2 separate regions of the Homo sapiens genome follow, and region 1 is linked to region 2. Evidence: fine-mapped expression QTL. A gene starts in region 2. The other region holds a variant in brackets. All regions are shown on one strand. Distances are from middle to middle. Region 1 has its middle 57 kb from the start of ZNF248-AS1. Region 2 holds the start of ZNF248 (zinc finger protein 248).

Region 1 (4,390 bases), 57 kb after region 2:
TGTTAAGGAACTTTTCCTCTGTGTTTTCTTCAAGTAGTCTTATGGTTTCAGGTCTTATTTTTAGTTCTATTATGTATTTTTGAGTTGATTTTTGTGTGATATAAGAAAAAGGTCCCATTTCATTCTTTTGCATTTGAAAAACCAGCTTTCCTAGAACCATTTATTGAAGAGATTGCCTTTTCCTCATTGTGTCCTTGTAGTGCCCTTGCTGAAAATTAGTTCACCATATATGTTTGGTTTTTTTCTGGGCTGTCTATGCTGTTTCACTGGTCTAGCTGTGAAGCGTAGCTCTGAGCAGCTCCCTCAGGTGGGCTCAGCACCTGTATGGCCTGTAGGAGTCCCCAGTGGCAAAGACTGCAGGTGTCCATGTGGTAATGGGGGTTGCTGGCATCCTCCTGCATGACTTTTCCCTACAGGGAGAAGTCCTTCCTGGTTCCAAGTTGATCCCAGTTGGGGTATGGGGTGGCAGAGGTGAGGTATTTCCTTTCCTTCTCTGTGCAGCCCGCCTGAGTTTCTCTGTGTCTCTGTGCTTTGCAAGATTCTTTGACTCCTGTGCTTTATTCTGATCTCCTTTAGTTGTTTTCATTGAAAGAAGTTGTTTTAGTTGTTTTTGTGGGAGGCACTAGCTCTAGGAACTTCTGCTTAGCCACCTTGGTGATGTCACTCCTGTATTATTGATTTTGAAGCATCATTATTATTATTATTATTAGATGGAGTCTCACTCTGTCACCCAGGCTGGACTGCAGTGGTGCAATCTTGGCTCACTGAAACCTCCCCCTCCCGGGTTCAAGTGATTCTCCTGCCTCAGTCTCCCGAGTAGCTGGGATTACAGGTGTGCGCCACCACCCCTGGCTAATTTTTATATTTTTAGTAGAGATGGGGTTTCGCCATGTTGGCCAGGCTGGTCTCGAACTCTTGGCCTCAAGTGATCCACCCGCCCCCAGCCTCCCAAAGTGCTGGGATTACAGGCATGAGCTGCGGCACCTGGCCTGAAGCATTATTTCTAATGGCTGCTTTAAAGTCTGCCAGATGATTCCAGTATCTGATCCATCTCAGTGTTAGTGTCATTTGATTCTTCTCTTTTTCAAGTTGTTGTTGTTGGTTTTTGTTAGGATGTGTGATTTTTAAAGGTATCCTGTACATTTTTCCTACTTAGGTTTGGAAACTGTGAGTCCTATTTCAATCTTTTATTTTTGCAGGCAGATACCTTCTTTAGGTTTCAGCTTGCAGTTCTTGGCTTACCTTTATGGGCTGTGGTTCCAGTGACAGTTTTCAGAGTCTTTCTGGTGTTATTTTAGTCTACTCCTTTTATCTAGTACAGATGGGCCTGCCTCTGGTTCTTGTTGGTGCTGCCTGAAGGAGCCAAAGGAGTTTCTCCAGGCCATTCCACGAGGTATCTGTTGGTGGGGATGGAGAATTCTTAGGCCTGTGGATACAAAGAGGCTTCCTGGATGAGACCTTTTCTTGGCTGGGCCTCACCTACTTCAGTCTCTTGGTTGGGGAGGGGAGCACTTCTCCGCCTGTTTATTGTTGGAGGATTCTCCAGGTCAGTCGCCTTTGCCAGGGGTTTCAGGCTTGCCTGAGACTGTAAGAGGGGACTCCCTTTAGTTCAGGGAGAGGAATGAGCTTACTAGGGCTGCTTTGTTGCTAGTTTGGAGGTCAGGAAATGTTGGGTCTGGGATGCCTTATTCTGTGTAGATAAAGTGCCATGCTGTTGCATTGTTCCTCCAGTTCTGGGCTCATATGCCAGTTTACCTTTTTCTTACCACTTTTCAGAATTTCCTTTTCTTGTCCCTTGTTATTTCCAGAGGAAAGGAGGAACAGGGAGAAACGTTTGTATGCCATATTATTTAGACTAATTGTTTTTTATTTATTTCATTATTCTTTTCTTTATCTGTCTTTTTAAATGTATTTTTGTATTCCATTTTTTTCACAATTTGGATCAACTTTAAAAACATTATTATATAGGTGTTTCTTTGAAATTTACATCAGTTTCTTTAATTTATCACAATCTACCTTCAAATAATAATAGATCTTTAACTTAGAGTGTACTTAGTTTCCCCTCTCCTGTTTTGCACTATTGTTGTCATACTTTCCATTTCTTTTTTTTGAGAGAGACAGAGTCTTGCTCTGTCACCCTGGCTGGAGTGCAGTGGCATGATCTTGGCTCACTGCAACCTCCGCCTCCCAGGTTCAAGCAATTCTCCTGCCTCAGCCTCCAGAGTAGCTGGGATTACAGGTGTGCACAACCATGCCCAGCTCATTTTTGTATTTTTAGTAGAAATGGGGTTTCTCCATGTTGGCCAGGCTGGTCTTGAACTCCTGACCTCAGGTGATCCACCTGCCTTGGCCTCCCAAAGTGTTGGGATTACAGGTGTGAGCCATCACGCCCGGCCCCATTGCTGTGTTTCCAATAAATCCTGCATTATACTATTTTGCTTGCTTTAAACAGTTACCTTTTAAAGA[A/AT]TTTTTTTTTTTTTGAGATGGAGGCTGTAGTGCAGTGGCGCGATCTAGGCTCACTGCAATCTCTGACTCCCAGGTTCAACCAATTCGTCTGTCTCAGCCTCCCGAGTAGCAGGGATTACAGGCACCATGCCCAGCTAATTTTTGTGTTTTGAGTAGAGACCGGGTTTCACCATGTTGGCCAGGATGGTCTCGATCTCCTGACCTTGTGATCTGCCCGCCTCTGCCTCCCAAAGTGCTGGGATTACAGGCGTGAGCCACCGTGCCCAGCCCTTTTAGAGTAATTTTTGAATGAGAAATATTTTATATTTGTCTCATTATTTACCATTTTTGGTAAATTCTTCATTCGTTTGTAGATATTCAGATTTTCATCTGGTATTCTTTTTCTTTTGCTTAACAGAATTCCATTTAACATTTCTGGTAATGCAATTTTCCTGGTGATAAATGTTCCCAGCTTTTGTTTTTTGGGAGCATGAAAAGGTATTTCTTGCCTTTTTATGGGAGATTTTTTAGATGGCTATAGGATTATATTGGTAGGGGTGTTTTTCTTCTAATACTCCAAAGGTTTCATTCCTTTGTTTTTTGGCTTGGATACTTTGTGATGCAAGTCTAAGATAATTTTTAAATCTTTGTTCCTCAGGATATGTTGTATGCTTTTTCTCTGTCTCCTTTTAACATTTTGTTGTTGTTGTTTATAGGATTTTTAGAAATTGCTTTTTTTTTGAGATGGAGTCTCACTGTGTTGCCCAGGCTGGAGTGCAGTAGTGCAATCTAGGCTTACTGCTTACTGCAACCTCTACCTACCAGGTTCAAGTGATTTTCCTGCCTCAGCCTCCCAGGTAGCTGGGATTACAGGCATGTGCCACCACACCCAGCTAGCTTTTGTATTTTTAGTAGAGACAGTGTTTCACCATGTTGGCCAGGCTGGTCTTAAACTCCTTGCTTCAAGTGATCCACTCACCGCAGCCTCCCAAATTGCTGGAATTACAGGCGTGAGCTACCGCGCCTGGCCACATTCAGTGATTTTTAAGAAAATCTCTGGAATTCCCATTTGCTTCATATGTTATATGTTTCTTTTCTGTAATCATTTTCTTTTTAGTTGGTAAACATGTAGCATATTTATAATTGGTGATTTAAGGTTTTTTCTTTAACTCAATCACTTTTTCTCATTGTTTGCTGTTTTGCTGCTTTTTATGGGTCACTTTTTATACTTTTCACCATTTGTTGAATAATTTTAAATTTACAAGAATTTAAAACTTTTAATTTAGATTTGCAAAAATTGTGAAGATAGTACAAAGAGTTTTCATATATTATTTCACACTGTTTCCCCGGTTGTTGATGTCATACCTTAGTATGTTACAATTAGCACACCAATATTGGCACATTTTTGTTAACTGAAGTCCATAGTTTGAGATTTCTTTCAGACTCTACATAGGGCTGGGCATGGTGGCTCATGCCTGTAGTCCCAGTACTTTGGGAGGCCAAGGCAGGTGGATTGCTTGAGCCCAGGAGTTCAAGACCAGCTTGGGCAACATGGCGAAACCCCGTGTCTACAAAAAAATTTGCCACATGTTGTGGCATGTACCTGTAGTCCCAGCTACTTGAGAGGATGATGTGGGAGGATCACGCTCTGCTGGGGAGGTCCAGGCTGCAGTGAATCACGATTGTGCCACTGTATTCCAGCCAGGGTGACAGAGTGAGACCCCCATCTCAAAAACAAAACAAAACTTTCCTTATATGTCCTATTTCTGTTTCAGTGTCCCATCTCTATTAGCAGTTAGTCCCAATTATTTCCTCACCCTTATTCTTGACAACTGCTACGTCTACTTTGTATTTCTATGGAGTTGCCTAATGTGGAAATTTTATATAAATGGAATCATATACTATGTGGCTATTTGTTTCTGGCTTCTTTCACTTAGCATGATGT
Region 2 (4,390 bases):
AGTTTAGGTGAGGGAATAAGGTTGCATTCATCAGATTGAAACATAAATGAGAAACACAGAAACAAGTCGGAACTGTCAGTGATTCAACCTAGAAATAAGAACGAGCTGACACAAACAGTTAGGGAAAACTGTTTTGAGGACATGCAGTCCCTCCATTCCTCCACATCGTCAAGGTTTTATTCCTGGATCAAACAGGACCATCAAACCTCAGCGTTTGTTCTCCTGAAAAGCATATGCACTGAGTTCTGCTCTGTAACTGTGTTCTTTGTTTCTACAAAGAAATACTTATAGACAATTTACTGCATTTATTTCAGAATTGTTACTAGAACAATTAGAGATAATATTACAATAACTTGGATAATTCTGCAAAATTAAAAATCCTGCATCTAATTTGCCAACTGCACTATTTTGGATTTGCTACTTCAGTTTTATTTCCCTTAATGTCAATTTTTGCCTATTTCTATTTTTCCATTTTCAAAACATAAACCCTTATAAACTTCAGAAATCCATTTTTAAACAAACTGGGAATAAAGAAACAAGAATCTCACCTGGGATTTGTTCATTTTCCGCTCTTAGTGGAGGAAGGAGAGCTGAAGGATTAGAAAGGAAGAATGTCAGGAGAGCCTTCGCCGGCCTTGCAGTTCGGAGATTCACCTGCCTATACAGGTCCACACACAAGATACTTACGTGTCCATGTGTGGCTCCGATATATGCTGAGCTCAGACATGACACTTTTCACTGAGTGAATGTAAATATTTCTTATTGATTTATTACCAATTTAGGTTCTGTGACACAGAAAAATTAAAAACATGAAAAGATGAGTTTAACAAGTTAACAGTAATCTGAAGGAAAAAACACTATGGGTTTGTCAAAATTCCTTGTAGGGAAAAAAAAAAACTGAGGCCATATTGTTTATCTGTTTACCTGTTAACACCATTAATGCCCTGAGGTTAGATAATGCAAAAGACCTCTAAAAAAAGGGATAGGATGTTAAATGCAAGTTTAAAAATGTTTGTTCTAACTTGCTAACAATTCCTCAAAAGGATCTTTTAATGAGAAACTGTGATATAGAGTAACAAAATGGGCAGCAGTGGCTCGGGAAACTGCAGACTTGACTTCTAATCTCAGTTCTGCCTCTAAGGAATGACAAGATCTGAACTACTCACCTCCTCAAACTCAATTTTGTTTTTCCATCTTTCAAATAAGGTCAAAACAGATAACCCAAGTATGACCTGACTGCACTACCATCCGGCGGGGATATCAGGCCAAGAGAGGAGGAAGCTCAGCAGCTCATCTGGATGTGCCCGGTGTTCGCGGAGGGGTGATAACAGCATTTCTTTCGCTGTGGCCGTGAGCCTTTCACCCGTCCCTGCCCTCAGACTCTCCAGAGGTGACGTTCCTGTTAGCCTGCGCGCCCACCCCTCAGCTCCAGCTCACCTCTCTCTTCTTAAATTTGTCCCAGACCTTGCACCAGCACACAGACTCCGACGGCTTCAGGATACTGTGCCATGATTACACATAATACATAAGCGAACGCGAAACGTGTAAATAATTACTTGGGATAGGAGGGCGGTCAGAGCCAGCAGGGGCCCTGGTGGTCAGCTAGGCCAGCCCCTTCGCTCCTGCACTCCACGGGCAGAGAGGCCCTTGGGGCCGGTGCAGGAGCCGTCTCCCTCGGGCTCTCCCAGGGAACGCACACCCAATAAATACAGCACCTAAACAATGAAAGTGCTCAAAACAACCCCAGGCGGCAAGTATTCCTAATATCCGTAATTTACAGAGAGGAAAACCGAGTCTCCCGTGGATAATTGTGTCTAATTCATTTGTCGCGGACCTGGCGCAGTCGCTCTCCCCCGCAGCCCCGCCTCCTCCCCGCGGGCTCAGGGCACAAAAAGCGCACACGCACACATCAAACGCCATGCGCACGCGCACAACAAACGTCACACGCTACGCACGCGCGTGCTGTCCCCTCCCCGCAGCCAGTTCCCTCCCCTTCGGGCCAGTGCGCATTGCCTACCCCGTGCTACAGGACTTCGCTGAGCGCCAGGCGCAGGGACTGGACGCATACGGACCCCCGGGAGCCCCGGAACTCGCGTTCCCACGCCAGACCTCATCCCCTTCTGACAGAGACGCCCTCGTCCCACCGTCGCCGCAGGCGCCAGGGGTCCCTCCCCACCGCCGAGGTCTAGCCGCCGCCCGCCCGCCTTCAGGGCAGCGCGGGGACCCCCTGGCCCTCGCCCAGTGCTCCGGGGCTCACCCGCCGCTCCTCGCCGCCTCCGGAGGCGAGGGATTGTTTCCCACAAGGGACTGGAGTCCAGGGAAGGACTCGCCTGGAGCGGGAGGCGGGGATGCACATGCGCAGAGGGAGAGGCCGAGCGCCCGAGTTAGGCTGGTGGATGCGATGCGGGGCTTGGAAGCGGCGCTAGACGGTGCCTGTCAGCTCTGGCCGCAACCCTCAGTTGTAAAATGAGGCTGATAGTGCCTACCTAGCAGGGGTTTTATGAGAATTGGAGGCGCTTACGTTGTAAAAGCATTTAAACCGGTGTCTGACACATAAATTGTTCAGTATATTTCTCACAATTATATATCATGCTGGTCATCATAAGGCTCTCCTGCAAAACAGCCTTGTATAGTGGGTTGAGAGATTACTGTCTCAGTTACCCACTCCTGCTTGGAACCAGGATTCTGTCAGTGTCCCCAGAGGTTGTGGATCAAATCAATGTGCCTGTTAGACACAAGCCAAGAGAAGGAAAGGTGTGCTTGAATTCATTCACGATCATGCATGGTAACGTTTAACTGAAAGACTGGAAGAGAAAACTAAAATCTGTGACCAGTATGGTTATTCTCTGGAATAAGGAAAAACAGAAGCTAGCAATTCAAGACCCAAACATAAAATTGTTTATATGTTTAAAAAAAAAAAAGCCGTTTGAGTAACAAATTTGAAGAAGAAAGCACGCACTCATTTCCCAAAACCAACCATACTTTACCCAGAACTACACTACACGTACATTCTTTTACGTGCACATCTGGCATTTTCAGCACACTATGAGCATGTGCGTGTGTTACAACTTTTCATTTAAAAAATCAACTCCTGGGTCATTGTCCACTTTTTTAAACTTTTCATTTGCTCATAATTTCAGATTTACAGAAGAGTTGCAAAATAGTTCCTATATGCCTTTCACCCAGATTCCACTAGTGTTAGTATTTTACATGACCATGGTATATTTATCAAAACTAAGAAAATAACATAGGTACAAGTACTATTAACTGAACTGCAGAGTTTATTCAGACTTAAGCAGTTCTTCCACTAATGCCCTTTTTCTGTTCCAGCAACCAATCAAGGATATTGTCACCGGGGGTCCTTGCTCCCAGAGCTCCCAAGATGGTGGTGGGCTGCTTCCGAGATGGGGGCAAGCCTCATGTTCTCTGACCTGGGGTTCTTGGCCTCATGGATTACAAGGAATGGAATTTTGGGCTATGTGGTGAGTGTTATAGCTCAATTAGAAGCCGTGGGTCACGGAAGAGAACTGTGGAACCCAGTGACTAGTGTTCAGCTCGATTAGGACCAACCTGGGACTTAGCTGTGCAGGAACAATGGCAAGCCTTTAGCCCAACTTGGGAGCAGCAATGGGCACCTCGCTGGATCAGGAGCACAGCGGACACCCTGCCAGATCCGGAGGGATGGAAGTCAGCGGCGGGTCTGCGAAGGCCGCAAACAGCAGCGGTGGACAGCGAGCGAAAGCTCAGCTCAAGCCGTAACAAACACGGACCAGAAGAGAGTGCAGTTGCAAGATTTAATAGAATGAAAACACAGCTCCCATGCAAAGGGAGGGGACCCAAAGTGGGTAGCTGTTGCCGGCTCCAATGCCTGGGTTTCTATCCCGATCATTGTCCCTCCCGCTGTGCTCTTAGGCAATAGATGATTGGCTATTTCTTTACCTACTGTTTTTGCCTAATTAGCATTTTAGTTAGTTCTCTTTACTACCTGATTGGTCGGATGTGAGCTAAGTGCAAGCCCCTTGTTTAAATGTGGATGCAGTCAACTTCTCAGCTAAGCTTAGGGATTCTTAGTCGGCCTAGGAAATCCAGCTAGTCCTGTCTCTCAGTATCACAGTACATTTACTTGTCATGTCTTAGCCTTGGCCAGTTTGTAATAGTTTCTTGCTCCTACCTTGTCTTTCATGACCTTGCTATGAAGATGAAAGCACGCTCTCTTGACTTCAGTCCTCCCACCTTGGCTTCCCAAAGTGCTTGGGATTACAGGCATGAGCAACCACACCCAGCCTATAGTTTAACTTTAAAACAAGAACGATAATGATCCCTTCCTGAAACTAACCCCCTCCTTGTTTGGGGACAAAAACCGTTTTTGTAAAACTAGTGGAAGTCCACA

Evidence for each region. PIP is the estimated chance that this variant, and not a neighbour inherited with it, causes the effect. A credible set is the group of variants that fine-mapping cannot tell apart.
Region 1: its variant is the best candidate, but not a certain one, in a credible set for the expression of ZNF248 in whole blood (INTERVAL, PIP 0.51).

What each region holds. Positions count from the first base shown.
Region 1 is chr10:37,912,417-37,916,806 of GRCh38, forward strand. No RefSeq gene overlaps it. Among named protein-coding and RNA genes, the nearest start is that of ZNF248-AS1, 57 kb to the left of the region's middle. The variant A/AT (reference allele first, on the strand shown) is at 2,467.
Region 2 is chr10:37,855,748-37,860,137 of GRCh38, forward strand. ZNF248 (zinc finger protein 248) reads right to left here and starts at 1,863. Exons shown (of 6, transcript NM_021045.3): 1 at 1,438-1,863; 2 at 688-785; 3 at 549-590. The coding sequence starts at 563. It overlaps ZNF248-AS1 (ZNF248 antisense RNA 1), which reads left to right and starts at 2,002. Exons shown (of 2, transcript NR_186559.1): 1 at 2,002-2,754; 2 at 3,331-4,390. RefSeq lists an enhancer at 1,356-1,415 and silencers at 1,733-2,109, 1,806-2,355.